Linked DNA regions of Homo sapiens. Each later gene encodes a partner of the first gene's protein in a complex. Each region holds a gene or a part of one and is shown in the gene's direction. Other genes may lie near its edges.

The links.
Region 2: PPP4R4 (region 1) and PPP4R2 share a complex: the UniProt entries of both Homo sapiens proteins name them as parts of the PP4 complex.

What each region holds. Positions count from the first base shown.
Region 1 is NC_000014.9:94,233,322-94,240,321, forward strand, and holds part of PPP4R4 (serine/threonine-protein phosphatase 4 regulatory subunit 4), read left to right. Parts: intron 1-331; coding exon 332-438; intron 439-1,240; coding exon 1,241-1,348; intron 1,349-4,243; coding exon 4,244-4,365; intron 4,366-7,000. UniProt on the Homo sapiens protein: Putative regulatory subunit of serine/threonine-protein phosphatase 4.
Region 2 is NC_000003.12:73,062,811-73,079,578, forward strand, and holds the end of PPP4R2 (serine/threonine-protein phosphatase 4 regulatory subunit 2), read left to right. Parts: coding exon of another isoform or gene 1-90; exon of another isoform or gene 91-527; intron 528-862; coding exon 863-937; intron 938-1,192; coding exon 1,193-1,336; intron 1,337-2,041; coding exon 2,042-2,331; intron 2,332-2,586; coding exon 2,587-2,912; 3' UTR 2,913-6,388; downstream 6,389-16,768. Other genes in the region: EBLN2 (endogenous Bornavirus-like nucleoprotein 2), read left to right, coding at 1-90. UniProt on the Homo sapiens protein: Regulatory subunit of serine/threonine-protein phosphatase 4 (PP4). May regulate the activity of PPP4C at centrosomal microtubule organizing centers.

The sequences.
Region 1 (7,000 bases):
CAAGGTATTTAGTCATTATTTGCTCTTTTCTTTTTAAAATATGTATTTCAAAATTCTACTTTTATCTGTGCATACAGAGCATTGTAAAATCACCATAAACTTTACTTCAGTTTTTTCCTAATTGTTTTAATTGCATAATTTGTAATTATCTTTACCTTAATAACTCAGAAGACAAATAAGATAATCCAAGTTATTGAGTCATGAACCTCAAATCGTAATTCAGGTTCTTTAAAAACATTTAGAACTTTAAAATACTCTGAAGGAATAGCTGACATGAGTGGCATGAATGTATAAAATTTTGTGAATTTTTTTCTCTAAATTTTCTCTTTAGATTTTGAATCCACTTGTTTCCAAGGCACAACTTTCCCAAACAGTCCAGTCTCGTTTAGTTAGTTGTAAAATTTTAGGAAAATTGACCAACAAATTTGATGCCCACACGTGAGTATTTGTATGTAATTTTCGGTCTACTTTATTACATTCGTTTAAAATGTATAATGACTGTGTAACAATATATTTGTGTTATTTCATACTGCATACAAATTTAGTTATCTTAACTATTTTAACTTTATGGAATTCTCATGACGAATTTACTTATTCAGATGCCTTTCTTTTCAATCTCATAACTTTTCAGAATTGGTAAGGTTAACTTTTTTCCTACTTCCTATCTTAATCTTCCCTATCTCATACCAAATATAGTTTTGAGGATAAAATAGCGTTATCTTATTGACTTTCAAAATTGGCAGCGGCATAAAGATAGAATTGCTGCTTTTTTACACTGTTGTTATGAATTTGTTATTTTGAATAATTTAACTTATTGTGAGGTTTTATGGAGCATGTTTATAATTCATGTGCTACTTCTTGCCTGCTTATTAAATACCAAATGAAAAGAATGGAATGTTTTATAATTATGATACAAGAGTAAAGCTGAAGAGTATTTTGGTTGATGGTTGCTAGACTCAGATATTCTACTGCTACAGCCTTTTATCTTAGCTATAGACATTTCAACTGCCAATCCAAAATTAACCATTATTTTAAAAAGACTGTGTGATATACATAATTTACAAGTAGCTAATAACATCCAAATTTAATAACATGTAAAATACCTTGTAAACTATTATTTTTTTTCTATTAAAGTACATTTGTTATTATTAAGGTGAGTTAAGATTTTAATGATAATTGTTTGGGAATATTATTCTGAAACACTCATTCATTTGCATGTTTCTTTTCTCCCCACCTTCAGCATTAAGCGAGAAATACTTCCTCTGGTAAAATCACTCTGTCAAGATGTAGAATATGAAGTTCGATCTTGTATGTGTCGGCAATTAGAAAATATAGCCCAGGGCATTGGGTAGGTATACTTTGAATTCCTTATGCCATTTCCATGAAAACATGCCATTGAAAGGCTGTATTTGATCTTTAAAAATGATCATAACAAGTACCTCCTCTATGTCTGGATTAAAAGAGATAAAGAGGAATGTGCTTAGCATGGTGGTAGGCGTTTGATTAATGTTAATTTCTTTTTTTCTCACCTTAGTTGCTTAGTTATCATTCCAGACACCTAGATTCAGGAAAGAAAAGATAGCCCAATATAAACCATACTTGGAATATGTTTGACTGGCTATTCTTTGACTATATTATTGGGTCATTTCAGATGGGATTGCAGTTGTCCCTCCATATCCTTGGGAACTTGGTTCCAGGACCTCTTTTGGATACCAAAATCTGAGGATGCTCAAGTCTCTGATATAAAAGAGTGTAGTATTTCCATATGACTTGCTTATATCCTTCCACATGTTTAAAATCATCTCTAGATGCTAATAGTACCTAATACAATATAAATGCTATGTAAATAGTTATGCTGTATTGTTCAGGAAATATTGACAAGAAAAAAGTCTGTACATGTTCAGTAAAGAAGAAATTTTTTTCTGAATATTTTCTATTCATGGTTGGTTAAATCCACAGATGTGGAACCTGCAGATGTTGAGGGCCGACTACACTCTAATGGAAGCCTTTCTATAGCTCCTGTGCAACTTCAGGCTTCCAATGTTTGTTTTGTTGCTCTCCTTGTTCTTTTTTTTTTTTTTTTTTTTTTTTTTTTTGAGAGGGAGTCTCACTCTGTCACCCAGGCTGGAGTGCAGTGGCGCGATCTCGGCTCACTGCAAGCTCCGCCTCCCAGGTTCATGCCATTCTCCTGCCTCAGCCTCCCAAGTAGCTGGGACTACAGGTGCCCACCACCACGCCCGGCTAATTTTTTGTATTTTTAGTAGAGACGGGGTTTCACCGTGTTAGCCAGGATGGTCTCGATCTCCTGACCTCGTGATCCGCCTGCCTCGGCCTCCCAAAGTGCTGGGATTACAGGTGTGAGCCACCGCGCCCAGCTGTTGCTCCCCTTGTTCTATGGGTGCCTGAAGCTCCAGGAGAGGCATAGCAGCCAATCTCTTCACCCATAAGAACTGATCTCATTTCAATCTTAGAAGTGTGATATTAAAGGGAGTCTTACCTAAAAACCATCTTGGGAAATCTTTTCTTTTAAAAACAAGATTCAAAATTGGTACAAAAATCATTGGAACCTCTCATTTTTAGCAGAAGTTGCACTGATTTCATCTGGTTCTTTGTTGCACAAGCTAGGACAATCAGATTGTGGTCATTGGTACCTTTGTTAATTTTTTAAAAATCTGGGCCAATATTTAAGGCTCCGAAAAGGCTTTTGAATGTCACACAGGGTATGGTAGAGTGTCACACAGGGTATGGTGGAATGTCACACAGGGTATGGTAGTGTACTCTGTCCTGTGTCCACTGTTGCTAAATAGTATTTAAGTGTCGTGTTGGAAGTTTAACACAATTAATGAAAGAGTTATCTGTTATGATTATTTTCTTTTTTAATGCCCAGAGATAATTAAGTTGAATTTGCATCACTGTCACATGTTTTTGAAAAAAAGAGAACTCTGTTTAAAGATTGAATGGAAATAACTTTTACTATAGAGATGAAATTATTTTTCTTAAACTATTTTCTTTCATTGTTAATAAATTCAAGGATTTCAGTAGGTATACAAATATATTCTGAGCAAAATTTATATGAAATAAATTTTTATGAACTTTGGATTTGTTCTATCACATTTTACTCTTCTACCTCCTCTGTCTATATCCTGTATTTGCTGAATGTTTGTGAAGTACTGGTAATGTTAACATCTCTATCTGTATGATCTAGATCAATCTCTTAGAAAAACATGTTTTTTTGTGGCTCTTCAATTGCTTAAGTCCTTGTCATTGTGGTATGCTGCCTAATATGGTAGCCCCTAGTCACATGTGGCTATTTTAGTTTAAAATAAGGAAAATTAAAGAAAATTAGAGCTTTAGTTCCTCATTCATAATAAACTTATTTTAAAAAATGCTCAATAGTACCCTACTGAAGAGTACAAATGATAAACATTTCCATCATTGGAGAAAGTTCTACTTGACAGCATTGTCTTAGAGTCTTTGAGATTTGCGCTGAAATTTTTAAAAGTTTTCTACAACTCTTAATAACTTTCTTGGACTCTATCAACATCTTATGTCAATTATAATTGATGCTGTTTTCCATCTTGTACCCAAGAAAGCTAACCACATCACAAGGCTCTCCTTGATCAGAGTGTTTGTCATTACAGTGACACCTTATCATGAGGAATAAGCAGAAACAAAATGTTGAATACAAACTATTTGTGATTGTATTATAAATATTGTATACTCCCTAAAAGTATTTATATTATGTTTCATTCTGCTAGGTAGGACACCTAGAGTGATATATCATCTTCTATATAGAAATTAGTTACCATAATTTCATGTATTAGGTGAATGGAAAATAATTTATACCCTGAAATCTAGATAGAAATATATTATTTAGGTTTCTGCAGTTACTACTGATAAGTTTTTCTAATTAGTCCAGATTTTTGCTGAAGTTGCTTAAAATGGAAAACTATATTATAATTTATAAAGTTTGATATAAACTCTTAGTTATTAAGATTTCTGTAGGTAACAATATTATGCTGGAGGAAGTGGGATTGATTGAAATCATTATGAAATTACTATTAATGTTTCTTATATGTATGGTGTGCTTTCCCAATAAGACTGAAAGCTTCTGGAGAGCAGGAACAGTATCTTTATGATTTTTCATATTTTCTGCAGCAACTAGCCCAGTCACTGGTTTTTAGTAAGTTCCTGCTACACATTTATTGATTTGATTTATTTTCTTCTATTGCTTATTGTGCAGGACAGAACTTACAAAAAGTGTGGTGCTCCCTGAATTAATAGAACTTTCTAGGGATGAAGGCAGCAGTGTACGACTTGCAGCTTTTGAAACTTTGGTTAATCTGCTTGATATATTTGATACAGGTAAATCATGTGGCTACATCTTTGCTTCTGAAAACAGTGTTTTTCTACATGTTTTATGTCACTAATAAGGAATAAAAGTAGATTTAGAATTTCCTATGTTAAGCCTCCCTTCCTCTCCCTCTTTTTATGATTCATTCTGTTTTCGTGTCTTCTTGGCTTTCACTTTTACCCTCATGGTGTCGTAGTCCATTTTGTGTTGCTGTAACAGAATACCTGAGACCAGGTAATTTATAAAGGAATTTATTTTGGCCCACATTTCTAGAGGCTGGGAAGTTCAAGATCAGGCAGCCCCATCTGACCTGTTTCTGATGAGGGCCTCATGCCACCTCGTAATCTGGCAGAGAAGTGGAAGGTGAAGCAGGCCTGCAAAAGGGAGAGGGAACAAAAGAAGCTGACTTTGTAACAACCTGCTCTCCAGAGAACTAACCCAGTCCCACGAGAGCTAACCCAGTCACTTGTGAAGGAGATCTCAATACCACAGGAACTTCACCAGTCAACCCACGAGGGTGGAGCCAGTGGGTGGACCCATGCGGCCCCACCTCTTAAAGATTTCACCTTCCAGTATTGCTGCACTGGGGCCAAGCCTTGACAGGCATTTTGATGGAGACAAACCATATTAAAACCAGTACCCTATGGCATACAGTGTTGCTACATATTCCATCTCTCTTTTCTCCCATCAAAACTTAACTGACTTGTGTGTGTATAGGGCTAAGAATTTGACTTTAACTTTTTCACCTAATTGACATTAAGACAGATCCTGAGACATTGTCTACATGAGTTTCCTCTCCTTAATAATATTTTAATGCTAGAGATCTCATGGCCATTGGGGGAGAAATTTGGGATGGGGTATTTGAGTGGGAGAGGGTAAAGAGATATTCCTTAGTGTTATGTAAATCATGTCACAAAGACAGTTAACTGCTCTACTGAATGTATGGCTAGACTCTTGACTAATGCTGGATATTAGTTATCAGTAAACATTAACTATTTTGATAAAGAGAAATTTGGAGGAGTAAATGTCAAGTACTTAGGTACAGAATTCAATCGTATAATTATAGTATTACATTTACTTGGATTACCAACATTTTATCTGAACTCTAGGAAGCCTCTTAAAGATTATTGCAATATGGACAATAATTGTGTTTGGAAATTCCAGAACAGTCATTTAGACAATATGACAAACCAGAGGAGTAAAACTGCAGTACATGATAAGTGAATGAATAAATCTTTTTTCCTCTAATAATGGGGCATCCCCAGGCTCCAAACTAGAACCTTGCCATCATCTTTGATCTTTTCTCTTTTACTGCCCACACCCATTTATCACAGAGCTGGGCCTAACCTGTGTTTGTGGCTTTATTTCCTACCATTCTTTCCCACTCCTCTTGTGTCTGATGCTCCAGTCCCACTTCCTTAGCATACCAGATTCTTTCACACCTCTAGTCTTCTCTCATACTTTTTCTTTCTCTATTGTTTCCTTCCCTCTATTTTTGTCCTAGCCAACTCCTTCTGCTTCTTTTTTTTTTTTATTATTATAGTTTAAGTTCTAGGGTACATGGGCACGACGTGCAGGTTTGTTACATATGTATACATGTGCCATGTTGGTGTGCTGCACCCATTAACTCGTCATTTACATTAGGTATATCTCCTAATGCTATCCCTCCCCCCTCCCCCCACCCCACGACAGGCCCCGGTGTTCGATGTTCCCCACCCTGTGTCCAAGTGTTCTCATTGTTCAATTCCCACCTATGAGTGAGAACTTGCGGTGTTTGGTTTTTTTGTCCTTGCAATAGTTTGCTGAGAATGATCCTTCTGCTTCTTTAGTTCCCAGTTTAAATACAGTTTCCTCCCTGACATCTTTCTAAATCCTTTACACCAGGGGTTGGCAAACTATGGCCCTTAGACCAAATCTGGCCCACCGCCTGTTTTTGTGAATAAAGTTTATTGGGACAGAGCCACACTTATTTGTTCACATATTGTCTGTGGCTGTTTTTGTGATGCAAGAACAGAGCTGAGTAGTTGAGACAGAGCCTGCAAAGCCTAGAATATTTACAAAAAAAGTTTATAGATCCCTGCCTTATACCAGCTATTAAGACAGTGATCACATTGTCTTATATTTTTTGTGTTTGGCTTTTTTGCTGGTTTACATTTCTCAAAATCAGAGACCATTTATTATTCATATTTCTACTTCTACTTAGTTACAAGGCTTGTTCTGTAAGAAATACAGTGTGTTGAATGAATGTCATTTAACAAAAATAGTAGATATGGCACCGAAATGTAATGATAATAGTAATAATAATACTCATAAGCCTGTTATAGCATTTTATTTAGTATTTCTAGATAATAAAGAAGTGATTCATTTCTGAAATTTAAGAAAACTGTGAGAAATTTGGAGAGCATTTAGAATTGAGACTTAAAAATCACCAGTATGTCAGATACTTATGACCTAAGCAGATGTACTCAAATAATTGATTAATTTTTTAAAGAAGAGCCATCTAAGAAGTAAAAGTGATGAAATTCAATACATAGAACATATTATAAGCTAATGTAATTTTAGTAATAAATGAAATGATAAAATGGGCTTAAGCTGTAGCATGGTATGAGATGTGTGTAAAAGAGAATAAGAAAAGTTTCCTTTGCT
Region 2 (16,768 bases), on another chromosome or scaffold:
AGCTCAAGACCATGGGTTGGAGAATTAATGTTCACACTTCTATTTGGAGACTTTGAATCCCCTCTACACAAGCTACGCAAGTCAAGTTAGTTGCCAAGAAAGCACAGATGACAACCTATTAATGCTGTGAGAATGTTTCTAGATCAGTGCATGGATGGCTCCATTGCTCTACGGGCCATTGTGTCTGAGATCCCAGTCTTTGAGGAGAAAAAAAACAATGGTTAAAAAGGCATTGGGGAAATATTTTGAGTTTGGGGGTGTACTTTGCCACCCCATTATTGGGGAGCTGTCACCACGAATGTTCCCAAACTTAGCAACAGCGGCAAACTACTGGGCCAAGATGAGCAACCCCACATTTTTGGGATTTAAAGCTCCTGATGTTATACCAGGATCAACCATCACACTCCCTTTGCTTCAAATGGCATCTACCCCGTAAGATCTTGAGGGGGGAGTGTTGGGTGGAATCATAGATCCATGCACTCCTAACATGAACTAATTCTCATTATTTAAAAAAAAAAAAAAAAAAAAAAGTCCAGGTGTGGTGGCTTAACGCCTGTAATCCCAGCACTTTGGGAGGCCGAGGTGGGCCGATCACTTGAGGTCATGAGTTTGAGGCTAGCCTGGCCAACATGGCAAAACCCCGTCTCTACTAAAAATAAAAAAAATAGCTGCGCATGGCATCACACGTCTGTCATCCCAGCTACTTGGGAGGCTGAGGCATAAGAATTGCTTGAACCTGGGAAGTGGAGGTTGCAGTGAGCTGAGATTGCACCACTGCACTCCATTCCACCTTGGGTGACAGAGCCAGACTCCATCTAAAAAAAAATTAAGTCATCCACAAGTGTATTTTCTTTTCTTATAGGAAAAACAATTCCAATAGTTTAAATCGAATGAATGGTGTTATGTTTCCTGGAAATTCACCAAGCTATACTGAGAGGTGAGATTCTAGATTTTTAATACCTACAGAGTTTGCATTGTCCTGATTTTGAGTAGCAGGCTTAGTGTACTTTTTAAAAATTGGGCATTTTATGGACACCATAGGATGAACTACATAGAATTAGTTAATTTGGTAAGGCATGGGCCTGAAAACAAAGTTGCAGCAAATACTTCTGTGATGTATTCACATCAACATACCTTAAGAGGGATGACTTTTTATAAAAATAGGAAATGATGTTCATTTATCTTATTATAGGTCTAATATAAATGGGCCTGGGACACCCAGGCCACTTAATCGACCAAAGGTTTCTTTGTCAGCCCCCATGACAACAAATGGGTTGCCTGAGAGCACAGACAGCAAAGAGGCAAATTTGCAGCAAAATGAGGAGAAAAATCACAGGTTTGTATGTTTTATATTTAAAAACAGTGTTTTTATTAAAAGTTAAAGTTAACATTTAATCAGTACTTATCACTTACTATTTATAAGTTCTGAGGGACAGAACAAGGTTTTCATGCGGTTTATAGGAGCACTGGCTTCTCTTTGCAGCTGTAGCAAATGTTGAAGGTGGACATAGACAAGACTTAAAACTGCTAATTTGTGGAGACTGTTTATGTAGGGTCTAAAAGTAACGTAGATATGATGATCCATTTCATTTGTTGTTTCTGAAAGTTACTTGAAAAGAAATGATCTTTATAAATAAGTTGATTTTTGTGAGTCGTTTCTCATTGTAGTTCATAAAAGGACACCTTTTGTTTATATCTTCAAATTTTCTGTATCACATTAAGGGAAGGAAGACTAAATGAGGGAGAGGACTTAAGAGAGTATGTCCGTATGGAAGACTTGCGGGTTTATTGTAGGAGAATATTTAACTTACTGGAGAATTGCACAGAAAGGTCATATAGCTTTTCTGAGTCCTACTGGGAATTATTCATCAAACAGTTTAGTTTACCTTGAAATTATTCTCTTGTGTTTTTCTTTGTTCAGGTGTTATAATTTAACTTTGACACTGAAATACAATTTAAAACATTATTTAACCTTAAAAATGGGGATGTAGAAGATGGGGAAAATAATCTTATTAATGACACTTTAAAAAAACATTTACAGTGACTCTTCGACCTCTGAATCAGAAGTTTCCTCAGTGAGCCCTTTGAAAAATAAACATCCAGATGAAGATGCTGTGGAAGCTGAGGGGCATGAGGTAAAAAGACTCAGGTTTGACAAAGAAGGTGAAGTCAGAGAAACAGCCAGTCAAACGACTTCCAGCGAAATTTCTTCAGTTATGGTAGGAGAAACAGAAGCATCATCTTCATCTCAGGATAAAGACAAAGATAGCCGTTGTACCCGGCAGCACTGTACAGAAGAGGATGAAGAAGAGGATGAAGAGGAAGAAGAAGGTATTTAGAGACCATCTGTAAAAGGGTGGAGTAAGGAGATCCTCAAATTCTTGTACTTCATTTTTTTCGTGAAAGAATTTTACGTAATGGAACTCCTTATAATGCTGATGTTGGGCTTTTCTCCCACCTGTATGTAGTTGCTGCTGAATTTCAGGGGATGTGATTTGAACTATAGAATATCAGAATTCATGAAACTTAACTGTGGAGGTATTTTGAAAATACAATTTAACTACAACAACATTTGCTTATTTTTAGAGTCTTTTATGACATCAAGAGAAATGATCCCAGAAAGAAAAAATCAAGAAAAAGAATCTGATGATGCCTTAACTGTGAATGAAGAGACTTCTGAGGAAAATAATCAAATGGAGGAATCTGATGTGTCTCAAGCTGAGAAAGATTTGCTACATTCTGAAGGTAGTGAAAACGAAGGCCCTGTAAGTAGTAGTTCTTCTGACTGCCGTGAAACAGAAGAATTAGTAGGATCCAATTCCAGTAAAACTGGAGAGATTCTTTCAGAATCATCCATGGAAAATGATGACGAAGCCACAGAAGTCACCGATGAACCAATGGAACAAGACTAACTATTTAGAAACATTTAGATGCAGTATTTTACATACAGTTCTGGTTTTAACACTGTATAAAACTTTTGTGTAATAAAATGGACCTTTAGTTTTACAAGAGAAGCAGGTTGTAAAATAAAGTACTTTATGGATAATTCCTGAAAGAGTTGTACATGTAAGAACTGTGAATATCAGCTCCTCTGGGTCCTGCTTACCTTACCGCTGACTTTTCTTTCTTTCTTTTTTTGGTCTGGGCAAATCAGTGGTTTGTGTATAGATTTTTTTTTTTTTTTAATTTAGGATTGAAGTTTTTAAACTGGAAAGTAATTACAATTTTGAAAAGTTTTTTGAGATTATCACATTTAGTTTATACATATGCAAGAAGCTTTTTGTCTTGTCTCTTTCTGATAGCTCTAGCAGTTTTCATATTTTGGTCATAGTTTCAACATTTTAACATGTGAATTATAGGGTTTCATGCTGGTTTCCAGATTTTATTGTTTGGCTACGTACAATGGAACTTTAAGTCATATATACATACATATATATATATATATATATATAATTCTAAGGGGGGAAATGTTATATTTTTCTGTTTCTATAAGAGATGAATACAGTGGATACTTTTTCTATTGGTAATGATTGAGTTCACCTCTTTCAGAAGACATTTTCTTTCTCTTCTGAGTAATTGAAATAAAATCTGGCCCTTGTGAAACCCTGGAAATCTTAAGTCTGTTGAAATACCAGGTTAAACACATTCCAAGAGATCTGTTCAAACTCAAATTCTTTTGTATACTTCTGAGGTGCCTGAGAAAAAGACTTCATTATTTATGAGAAAATATGCTTTATCTTGGAAATTGTGTTCAAATGTTAGCTTACTATTTTGTAGAATGAATGTTTATGAAGCTGATATGAGACCATCTCAGAAGAACCAAGTAGGTTCCTTGACCTTTTGCTTGCTTTTCTGAACATTGTGAATATTACACATGTCTTTCTAAATTATTCTAGGGTATGCAAATGTCAATGGTATGAAACACCACTGTACTGGAAGAATTAATATATTACTTTAGTATGTACCTGAGCTAAATGACTGAAGCTTTAGGGGTGCATAGAAACCACCATAATTTGTATGACATTTTGAAGTGAATTAAATATTTTTGAACATGCTTCTTCGACAGCCAGTGTTATATTTTTCAGATCAACACAAAGCACAATGATTACTCGAAATTCAGTATTTTCAAATTTACATATTTAAAGTCATGCAAGCTGTAACTTCCCTGTCAAAATTACTGGCTGCCAAATTTATACCTGTTTCTTCAGCTGTACCTTTTGATATTTAAAGTTTTTAAATTTCTGTAAAGTAGATTTTGTAGAATGTAATGTGTTCACTGCCTTTGTGAAGCGGTATATAATTGTATAATTTCTGTGTGTAAACTGAATGCTTGGGCTTTCAATACAGTATTCATATAAAGCAATAAATATTAATGTTATGAAATATTTGACTACATTTTTATCAAAATATGAAAGAATCCCCCCTTTTTTAGTTTCAGATACCTGAACTACACAGATGAGCTTCTAAAACTGATGCAAACAGTTTCTGACACTGTATAATATGCTTTTGGGTGATTTGGGGGGCAACCACAAGTTTTGCGTTTTGACTACTTAAATCATCATGGCTATAAATACCAAAACGATTTGGATCCATTTATGTTTGTAGGATAATATACTACTGACTGACTTGACTGTCAGGTTCACAACAGCTAGATGATATATTTATGACTATGTCTAATAGTTGAAATAAAATCTGAATATTGATTTACTATACCCAAGAGGGGAGAAAAATTAACCATTGTAAATTTTTAAAAAATTTTTCAAAAATGTTAAAATGAGGCAAATTTAAGTTTACAAATTTTGAAATTTTCTTTTGAATATTTATGAAATTGTCAGTAAACTTACCTAAGATCCTGTGACCTTTTGATATTTTTTATTTTAATTGTAGTGCCATGGACCATTTGTAAACAAATTGATTTACTTTTGTTGGTTGTAAGTTGAAGATTTAGCATTATGACTTTGAGGTCTGTGGTTTTATTTGTAAACTTGCAATTGCTATATTTGCAAGGGCAAATGTATTTCTTTATTAAATAAAGTACAATAATGGTGAATGTACCAAAATGACATCACTTAACTCTATGAGAGATCTGCATTTTAATCTATAGTTTAATAGTTTTAATATTTATTAGATATTCATATGTTGATCATAGATCAAACTTGTTGCTGTTTATACAGATAATTGTAGAATGCTCATGGAATATCTTTAGGGTAGGTGGAATACTTCTGTAGTTAAATTGGGAAACCTTGTTCAGCTGGTTTTAGATATTGATGGCCATTTGGAAGTAAATTTCCGCAGGTATTCATAGGTGCACTTAACACAGACTTTGCTTAATGAAAATGTCAGTTCTAATAGTAACTGATTCACTTCTGAACAGAAGTGATTTTAGGCATATTTCTTAACATATATCAAGCAAAGTCCTGTTAAAAGATCTAAATGAAGAATGGAGACCTCAGTGATTAAAGATATTTTGTTTCTGACCTTGAGCAGATTGCTTACCTGTTCTCTAGACTATAACCCAACATGTAAAAAAAATTTGAAGATGGTGATGAGGAAAGTGAGATATATATATATATATGTATTATGTTTCTAGCACTTTTCCCTTTTAAAAAGTGAAAATATCCTTGTACATTTTTGAAAAATATATTTTCAGTTCTGAAAAATGTAGCAGAAGTAGTGAAAATGTCATATTTTAAATGTTGATTATTAGATAAATTTAACCTGCTTAGGGTTTATTGTAACTACACCTTTCAGACGTGTGTTTTGGAGTAGTGGAATTGCCAGCCAGGCCCTGTGGCTTGGAAAGGCATCCCAGAAATCCTCGGCCAGAAGGTGTGGCTTGTTAAAGCATTGAGATTCAGAGTATTTTGTTTTGCCGGTGTAGATAGGCATGTATTTATGCATTTTTGCATTTGTAAAATCAACTTTTCAAATAATGTAAATGTAATATACTAGTTTACTTAAAGGTACTTGGGCAGAATCTAAAGCTGCTACAATGTTTGATTATGAAAAAAATGTAACATGGTAAGGATGAAAATGCAACTTACAAAACCAAAGGAATTAAAAATTTTCGGTAGTGTTTCAAATTGTCTTCTGAACAGGAATTTAACATTGGTTTTGATGAAGGTGAGGGTCAGTTCTCAAGATTTGTGCTAATCATAAAATGAATGAATGCAAAACACCTTGTAATTTCATATGGAATTATAAAAATTAGGTTTGCTGGGTTTTGGCCTAATAAGAGTGCTAGTATGTATTGGTTAGACTACATCTTACTATTTCACATTTTAAAAATCAGTACACTCTTCAGGATTTTCTTTTATTTCAACTTGGAGCCTAGATTACTTTGCCAAATGTATTATTTTCATAATGCAATAAAATATAAATTAGAATATTTCTATGTGTGTAATTATTTTATGTGCCATAATGGTTTATTTGCCCTGCTGCCACTCCGACTCCCCCCCAACCCCCCCAACCCCCCCCGACCCTGCGCCACCACCCACCTCAAATCCTTAACTGAGGAAACTCAATGTGTGACTTTGTTACAGCCCTGTTTCTTACATGGTGACAAAGTGTTCCAGCAGGACTTGACAGTTGTGGTTCTTTGCCAGGCAAGTCATGCTGATTGTCAACAAAATCCAGATTTAAATAAGTCTCCACTGGTATAATTTGGCACTAGCTTACATGTATATATTTACAATATTTGTGTTAATCATTTTAAAGGCTGGGCGCAGTGGCTCACGCCTGTAATCCCAGCACTTGAGGCCAAGGCAGGTAGATCTCTTGAGGCCAGAAGTTCGAGACCAGCCTGGCCAACATGATGAAACCCCGTCTCTACTAAAAATAACAAAAATTAGCCAGGTGTGGTGGTGGGCACCTGTAATCCCGGCTACTCAGGAGGCTGAGGCAGGAGAATTGCTTGAACCTGGGAGGCAGAGGTTGCAGTGAGCCGAGATCACACCACTGCACTCCAGCCTGGGCGACAGATCGAGAGTCCGTCTTTAAAAATAAAAAAAATCATTTTTGAAATCCCACCTTCAGGCAACTACATGGTAAGAAGTGTAGAATTACCTGAAGTGGAGAGGAGGGTTCTGTTTTCAACTGTGGGTCTCCTTTCCTATGCTTCTTTTTGTTTTTGTTTTTGGGACGGAATCTTCCTCCGTTGCCCAGGCTGGAGTGCAGTGGTATGATCTCGGTCTCGGCTCACTGGAACCTCTGCCTCCCGGGTTCAAACAATTCTCCTGCCTCAGCCTCCTGAGTAGCTAGGACTACAGGCATGCACCACCATGCCCGTCTCATTTTTGTATATATATGTTTTTCGTAGAGATGGGGTTTCACAGTGTTGGCCAGGGTGGTCTTGAACTCCTGACATCAGGTGATCTGCCCGCCTCAGCCTCCCACAGTGCTGGGATTACAGACATGAGCCACCATGACTGGCCCTCTAGGCATATTATCGCACAGTAGCTACAGTAGAGGGTAAGATCTGTGGCTCTGAACTAAGGAGAGTACTAGTCGGTGTGTTTCTAACCTTAAGAATGTCTTAGTTTTCAGCTTCTCATATTTGATCTCTTACCCCCACTTAATTTTGTTTACTAAATAGTATAACTAGTACGTAGTTCAGGGCTAATGATGGGAAGACTGATTTTTCCACTGGCTAGGAATAAACTGCGTGAACTCTTCCCTATTTAAAATGAAGAGTATGCAATTCCCTTTTATTCTTCAGAACGTTTTAAGTTTAAACTTTAGCAGTAGTTTGTCATCTTTAGGTTTTGTTTGTACATTTTCAGAGTTTTTCTTCCCATAACTAAAAGTAATGAATATTCCAAAATGCCAGCAATTCCCTGTATACTAGTCTGCCATCTCCACTGTTTTACTCATCTTTGTAACCTCACAGGCTAGCCCCATGCTTGACAAGTGATAACAAAATTGAAAGCAAGTGGTAGGTCCACAGCCCACTTTAGATTCCTATGTTTTACCGATTCTGTGTCTACTTTGCCCACTTCAAGTGTGCTAAGGTCACCCCTGCAACTTTGCTACTAGGTTTGTGGGATTGGGAGCAGTACATTCTGTTGAATGCCCTTGCCAGGAAATCAGTGGGCAGTTGGATGGTATCACCAGAAAGTGAGCATCTTAACAAAGGAAATTTCCGTGAATGAGACCAGCTACCCCCTGCCTATAGAAAGCACAATAGCACACCCGCCTCTTACAGGGGATAGGTGCTGCTACAGGAGGATATATCATTAAATTACCCAAGTCCTGCTTTAGACATGGTATAATGGGACTTGATATTCAGTAATACTTGCAGCAAGAAATTTTTGCAGTTGAGTAGGCTTGTGAGACTTTTGATGCTGCCTATAATCGCTGAGAATTTGAAAGATAAATATGGGTTCAGTATTCTGTCTTCATTTTGGATGATAACTGTTTTTCTTTGCATTTCATGCAATGCTACAGAGTGGAAGGGTAAGCTTAGTTGGTGACTAACAATTCCCATGTGTATTTAAGAATGCATGCAGTTTCCCACTTTCAACCTGAAAACGTTACTTGATTGGAATTCAGAATACAGTTTCTCATGTAAATTATTTAAAATGTGGCTAACTTTGAGGCTATTATACAAGAAGCTGTTTAGGCCTTAATGTTGAGTGTATTACTGTGGTTAAATGTAGCAATTGTAACATTTCTATTGAAATATGTGGGTCAGTTTCCACTGTGGGTTTGTCGAAAATGCCTCTCCCACAGCTTTGGCAGTGCAAGTAAAGACTGAAGGTGGAAGTGTGTTAAGATCCAGCAGCTCGCCAAATATGTCAGTTATTTTAAAGTCAGGGATTTAGCATAAACTAAATATATCTCAATATTGGGTGATTCAAACTGCAATAGAATTTGCAGTGTCTTGGGATCATTATGATGGTGGTGTTTTGAATATTAGAAGTGTATCCAGATATAGGAGGTAGGGAATATTTTCCAGTATATTTCATAAGTTCCCTCTAAAAAACAACAGCACAGAAAGATTTCCAGGTGTTTTGAGTATTCATTTGGAATTTCATGAAATGATGACTATCAGATTTCACTTATCCCAACAAAGGGAGTTAAGAAGAGGTAGACAAAACATACAGATGGAGAAAAGCATGTCTGTTGTTAGGTAGCAACTTTCATGAATTGTGTATTTGGGGGGCTAAAAAGAGTAGATTTAGTCCAATTTCATATTTGAGGAATTCAATCACCCTGAAGAAAATAAGCAATGCAAGATTTTAACAAATTGGTGTGTGACTTGCATAGGTGCACAGGAGAACCATATTGGTGCAGCTGTGGCAGTCTGGGAAGGCTTCTCAGTTGAGGCAGGTTCTGCTTGGCCTTAGGTGAGCAGGACCATCAGGTAGCATGGTGTAATGGGCAGAGGAGAGTGGCATGGGAGTTGCACGATATGGGTTAAGTCACAACTTCACCATTCCCAGCTGAGGCATTTTGTGTAAGTTACAATATTTCTTTGAGCCTAGTTTTCTCATCTGGAAAATGGGTATAGTTATATCTACCTGGTAGGATTGTTGGAAACATTAAGTGACTATGGGTATAAACTACATCTGGTCCAGCACCTGATGTTTCTTTTAAGGGAGAAAGGAGAAACATGAAGGGAAGAGGGGAAGATACTGGTTGTCCCTGGGGAAGACAACAGTTTTTTTGGAATCAAAGTTGAGATTTCAATCCTGGTCAATGCTAGGATAATAATAAGCACTAATTGAACACTTACTTTATGCATGACATTATCCTTAGCACATATCACGTATTACCTAATTTAACCATACTATCAACCCTGTGAGGTGCTTAATCTTATGCCCATTTTATGGATGAGATAAGGTGAAGAAAGGCAACTTGCCCAGGGACCCTTTAAAAGTGGAGGGTCAGAATGAGAATCAGTGGCTCTGCCTCCAAAGCCCAGTGGTTGTTATCCATTATGCTTAGGTGCTGGCTAGTCTTGGAGGACTTGTAGAATTAGGGGGAGGGTGACCCTGAGGAGGTGAACCGCAGAGAGGAAGCCATGCCTGGTGGCTGAAGATTCTCAGAGCCACTTCCAGTTAGTTGCCCACATTCAGAACATCAAAAAGCTTCCTCATCATTCACAACAAACCCAAGCTCTTGGTTTCACATTCCATGTATTTCACCATCTGTTTTCACCTGATCCTTCTAAATGGATCACCCATGATTTTCCAGCTAGACATTTTGAATGCATTATCTATTTTAAAAATAAAATTTAAAAATTATTTAAAAATAGGTAATGTTTACACCTGACAAAAATTCAAATAGAACAAAATAGTATATACTATTTCCATCCACCTACCCTTGCTTCCAGATCCCTTGGTTACACCCCTCTCCCCCATGCCCCAGGCCAGTCTTAACAGTGGGGCAGAATGCTCCAGGACTAGGAGCCAGATTCCCTGGGTTTTCATCCCAGCTCTGCCATTTTCTGGCTGTGTGATCTCTGTGCATCTGTAGAAAAGGGGGATGAGGCCCTTACCTCACAGGGCTGTTAAGAGGATTAACCGTTAGAAAAGGATCAATCGTTAACTACTAGAAAAAAACATACTTATGCACTTTCAATTACTAACTGGTAGATAGTAAGCCCTACCTACAAATGAGTTCAAAAAAACAGCATTTTGCAGGCCGGAAGTGGTGGCTAATGCCTGTAATCACATCACTTTGAGAGGCCAAAGTGGGTGGATCATTTGAGGTCAGGAGTTCAAGACCAGCCTGGCCAACATGGTGAAACCTTATCTCTACTAAAAATACAAAAACATGAGCTAGGAATGGTGGTGTGTGCCTGTAATCCCAGCTGCTCATGAGGCTGAGGCACAAAGAATCACTTGAACCCAGGAGGTGGAGGTTGCAGTGAGCTGAGATCACGCCACTGTACTTCAGTCTGGGTGACAGAGTGAGACCCTGTCTCAAAAGAAAAAAAAGCATTTTGCAGAAATGTCCTGTATCCTTCAGCCTGGGTGACAGCAAGACTCCGTCTCACCATAAAAAAAAAAAAAAGAAAAAAGAAAAGAAATGTGCTGTACCTTTCTAGAGATAACTGCATACTCTGGCAAGCACAAGGTGGCCATCACTACCTCTCCCCTACTCCTCTTTTCTTTCTTGTTTTTTTTTTTTTTTTTTTTTTTTTTTTTTTTGAGATGGAGTTTCGTTCTTGTTGCCCAGGCCGGAGTGCATGATCTCGGCTCACTGCAACCTCCGCCTCCGGGGTCCAAGCGATTCTCCTGCCTCAGCCTCCCGAGTACCTGTGACTACAGGCGCCCACCACCACACCCGGCTAATTTTTGTCTTTTTAGTAGAGACAGGTTTCACCATGTTGGTCAGGCTGGTCTCGAACTCCTGATCTCAGGTGATCCACCAGCCTTGGCCTCCCAAAGTGCTGGGATTACAGGTGTAAGCCAATGTGCCCAGCCTATCCCACTCCCCTTTTCATAGTGAGTTCACACTGAACCCATTGAGATGGATGCACCTGGTCTTTTTTTTCCTTCCCCATTTACTGGAGTTTTGTGATATTCCAAATCAGTACCTAGAAAGTGCTCTAGTCACCTTAGCAGCTTCATAGTCTTTCAGTATATAGATGAACCATAATTAATTTAACCAGTCCCCTACTAAGTGATCTCATAGTATTTTGACTTGTGACTATTACTGGCTCGGTTCAAGCAGTTTGAGATGGAGACATTTAAAATCAGCGCCCTCTGGAAAGAAAAAAACAAGTCATTAAACTTTTAAGTGTTCTTTGTCGAATTATTAGGTAATGTGAAATAGACATCCTTGCACCTAGGGATGTGGTTGGAGGTGAGAATGGAACCTTATCTGGCAGGCAAACCACATGCTATATTCCCAGTCATCTAAGATGGTAACATACACCATTATTTTATGTAAAGTAAGGAAATAAGCCACCCACTGAAACAGGACACGTGCCTGCACAATGCATGGACTGGTCACAACAGCCTCTCCTGGCTTGACATTTTCATTTCTTCAGAGGAATTTTGTGGGTATTTTCCTCTCTTAAGCTCTGCAGAGCTCTTAGTTTTGGCTTGGCAAGAAAATGTGGAATTTCAGTCATCCCCACAATGACAAATACATGCTCTTCTAATGTCAAAGTTACTCCTTCCTGCTCTGTTTCCTTGACTTTTGGAAGGACATGCTAACTTTTTGTCTCACTGTGGAGTCAGTATAGTCCTCCTAAAGACATTTCCAGTGGTGATTAATTTCAGTATGTGTGCTACGCCAGCAACGCACATAACTTCGATTGGATCAACCGCGATGACCAACTTTGCATACGTTCTTGCAACAGCAGCAGCCACAGGGATTTATGCATCGAGATTTCTGAGACAACAAAACCAGCGTTCTGGAGTCAAACATCTCAGAAAGAGCCATCAATCAATCCAGGCAGCGATCTGCTCATTTGTTCATCCACAGATGTTTATTAAGGGATTTCTTATGAGTATGGCCCTGGGGTAGTTAATGAAGACAGACAAACAAGATAAGTAAAAATATATGTAAGATGGTGATAAGTTCAATGATCCTAAATAAAGCAAGAAAGAAAGAAGGGTTGTGGGAGGAGGTAGTTCTATTTCAAACATGGTGTCTCTGAAATGACATTTTATGTTGAGTGCAGTGGTTGTCCCCCACAGAGGGGCTCGGTTCCCTTGAAGACAGCAACTGCCATCTCTGAGAACGCACTTGCATCTCGAATAGGGTCTCTAATTCTTCCATCTCTCTTTCTCATACACATGCACTTTCAATTACTAATTAGATTTGGTTTCTTAATCATGTAACTGAATTATTTTCCATTGCACCAAAGCAGATATTCAGAGATATATTTTTAATATGTAGAAGTATACATATTTATGAGCATACTGTCACATTCTCTCTTTTTTTTTTTTGGAGACAGAGTCTTGCTCTGTTGCCTAGGCTGGAGTGCAGTGGCGCGGTCTCTGCTTACTGCACCCTCCGCCTCCTGGGCTCAAGCAATTCTTCTGCCTCAGCCTCCTGAGTAGCTGGGATTACAGGCACCCACCACCACGCCCGGCTAATTTTTTTTTGTATTTTTAGTAGAGATGGGGTTTCACCATGTTGGCCAGGCTGGTTTCAAACTCCTGACCTCAAATGATCCGCCCATCTTGGCCTCCCAACATGCTGGGATTATAGGTATGAGCCACTGCACCTGGCCTACTGTCACATTCTCTGTCTGCATCCACTCCTTGACACCCAGGTATTCATGAGTGCCTGGGGCATTGCTCAATTAAAGTTTGTTAAATAAGTGAACTCATTAAAAGAAAATTAGACAATTTTAAATGGTTAAAATGTCAAAATGACACAAAATTCTCCTTCCCACTCTTGTCCTTATCCCCCTTGCTCCCAATCTATAGGTAACCATTTTTATTAGTTTCTTGCTTTTAGTATTTCCTGATGCAAATACAAGCAAATTAAAATATATAGTGGCTGGGTGCTGTGGCTTATGCCTATAATTCCAGCACTTTGGGAGGCCAAGGCAGGAGGATTGCTTGAGCCCAGGAGATTGAGGTTGCAGTGAGCCATGATTGTGCCATTGGGTGGCTGGGCAAGACCCTGTCTCAAAAAAAAGAATTAAAACCTATTATCTTAGAGCTGAGTTTGGCGGCTCATACCTGTAATCCTAGCACTTTGGGAGGCTGGGGCAGGAGTATCACTTGAGGGCCAACCTGAGCAATATAGCAAGACTCCCATCTCTACCAAAAATAAAAATTAGCTGGGTATGTTGGCATGCACCTGTAGTCCCAGCTACTTGGGAAGCTGAGGTGGGAGGATCACTGGAGCTCAGGAGTTGGAAGCTGTGATGTGCGACAATCTTGCCTGTGAATAGCCACTGCACTCCAGCCTGGGTGACACAGCAAAAACCCTGGTCTCAAAAACACCCAAAACAGTAAAAAGAAAATGTCTAGTCTCTATCTATCTATCTATCTCTATCTATCATCTATCTATATCATCTATATCTCTATCATCTATCTATATCTCTGTCATCTATCTATATCTCTATCTATCTCTATCATCTATTTCTCTGTCTATATCTCTATTATCTATATCTCTAGCATCTGTCTATATCTCTATCATCTATCTATGTCTCTATCTATCTATCTGTAGTCTTATTTCTCTTCCTTACACAAAAGTAGCATACACCTTGCTTTTTACACATTTTTTTTTTTTTTTTTGAGACATTGTCTCACTCTGTCACCCAGGCTGGAGTGCAGTGGCGCGATCTCAGCTCACTGCAACTTCTGCCTCCTGGGTTCAAGCAATTCTTGTGCCTCAGCCTCCCGAGTAGCTGGGATTACAGGTATGTACCACCATGCTCGGCTCATTTTTTTTTGTATTTTTAGTAGAGACAGGGGTTCACCATGTTGGCCAGGCCGGCCTCGAACTCCTGCCCTCAGGTGATCCACCCACCTCAGCCTCCCAAAGTGCTGGGATTACAGGCCTGAGACACCGTGCCTGGCCTTTTTTCACTTAATATATCCTGCTGCTCACACCATACTCCATGTAGAGATCACTCTTGTTCTTTCTTTCCTGTAGTCTCTAGAGTGGATGTACACTCCACTTGTTTCCAATCAGGATTCCCAGAAGTGGGTCCTGTCAAAGGTAACGGCTTCAGTAATTTGGGTAGTTCCTATCAAATTCCCCTTCCTCAGGCTTTATGTTCTGTTCTCCCACCAGCTGTGTATGGGGGTGCCTGTTTCTCATGGCCTCACCAACAGTGTAGGTCTTTCCCCAGGTTGAGGGGCTATTGGTATTTTTCTGTGACCTCTCAGTTCACATCCTTTGCCCATTTTCCAAATTGGGTTGTTGGTCTTTTTCTTTAGAATTTCTAGAACATTTCAGAATTTTCTTTAGAATTTATTTGATAGATTATGGAAATTAATCTTTGTGATGTTACAATCATGTTGTTTTTCCAGTTTGTCTTTTTCCTTTGATCTTTGCATAACAAAAAAATCATAAGCAAATTATTTTTATATATTTGAATTCATGAGTTTTTTCTTTTTAATGGTTCTGGATTTTAAATTAGTTTTAGAATGGCTTTCTCCATTTTATTTTATTTTATTTTATTTTGAGACAGGGTCTCACTCTGTCACCCAGCCTGGACAGGGACAATGTGTGATCACAGCTCATTGTAGCCTTGACTTAGGCGGGGCTCAAGTGATCCTCCCACCTCAGCCTCCTAAAGTGCTGGGATTACAGGCATTAGCCACTGTGCACCATCTGGCTCCTCCCATTTTAACTTATATGGTTTCATTTCTTATATTTAATGTTTGATTTTCTTGCAGTGCTTTTTATCCTGATGCGTACTATGAGGTTTGGATCTGTTTGTCTTTAGGGCCCAGTACCATTTATTAAAAACTTCATCTTTAGCACCCTGATTTGATATGCCACCTTCATCACACAGTAAGTCCTGGGTTCATTTGGATGTATTAATATTTCTGGATGTGTTCTGTCTGTCCATTCGTGTGCTGATACCACACTGGCTTAGTTGCTGATGTGTACAGTGTTTTACATTCTAGTACAGCTGCTTCCTTTTTGTTCTTCTTTTTCTGAATTTTCCAGACCTAATCTTGCTTATTTATCTTGTCATATCCACTTCAGAGTCAGCTGTGTGATTCCAGAAAAAAATGATCTCTTGCTACTTTAATTTGGATCATAATACTTTATTTATTTATTTATTTAAGACAGAGTCTCACTGTGTCACCCATACTGGAGTGCAGTGGTGCGATCTTGGCTCACTGCAACCTCCGCCTCCCAGGTTCCAGCAATTCTCCTGCCTCTGCCTCCCGAGTAGCTGGGATTACAGGCACCTGCCACCATGCCTGGCTAATTTTTTATATTTTTAGTAGAGATGGGATTTTGCCATGTTGGCTAGGCTGGTCTCAAACTCCTGAACTCAGGTGATCCACCTGCCTCGGCCTCCCGAAGTGCTGGGATTACATGCGTGAGCCACCATTTCCGGCCTCATAATACATTTTAAAATTAATTGTGGAAGAATTTGCATCTTCAGGATGTTGAATCTCTCTAACCAAAGACATGGTATACCTTTTTATTCAAGTTAACTTTTGTGACTTCAAAAATGTTTAAATTTCCTCATGGAGGTTTGCATATTTCTTGTTCAATTTGTTCCTGAGTGCTTTATCTATTTTATTTTCTAGTTCAGGGATCATCAGCAAACTACAGCCCGTGGGACCACTGCCTGTTTTCTTATGGCCTGTGAAGTAAGAATAGTTTTTATATTTTAATGATTGGAAAAAACACAAAGAAAAGTAGTATTTTGTGACTTGTGTAAAAATTACTTGAAATTCAAATGTCAGTATCCATAATGACGTTTTATTGGAATGCAGCCACTGCCATTTCTTTATGTATTGTCTGTGGCTCCTTTCTTGCTAGGACTGCAGTAGAGCTGTGACCATGTGGCCCACAGAGCCTGAAATATTTACTATTTGTGCCTTGATGGAAAAGTTTACTGGCCTCTGTTCTTTTTTTATTTTTTATTTATTTTTTATTTTTTGAGATGGCGTCTCTGTCGCCCAGGCTGGAGTGCAGTGGTATGATCTCAGCTCACTGCAACCTCCCACTCCCGGACTCAAGCAATCCTCCCACCTCAGCCTCCCGAGTAGCTGGGACTACAGGAGTGCACCACCACTACTGGCTAATTTTTTATATTTTTAGTAGAGATGGGGTTTCGCCATGTTGCCCAGGCTGGTCTTGAATTCCTGGGCTCATG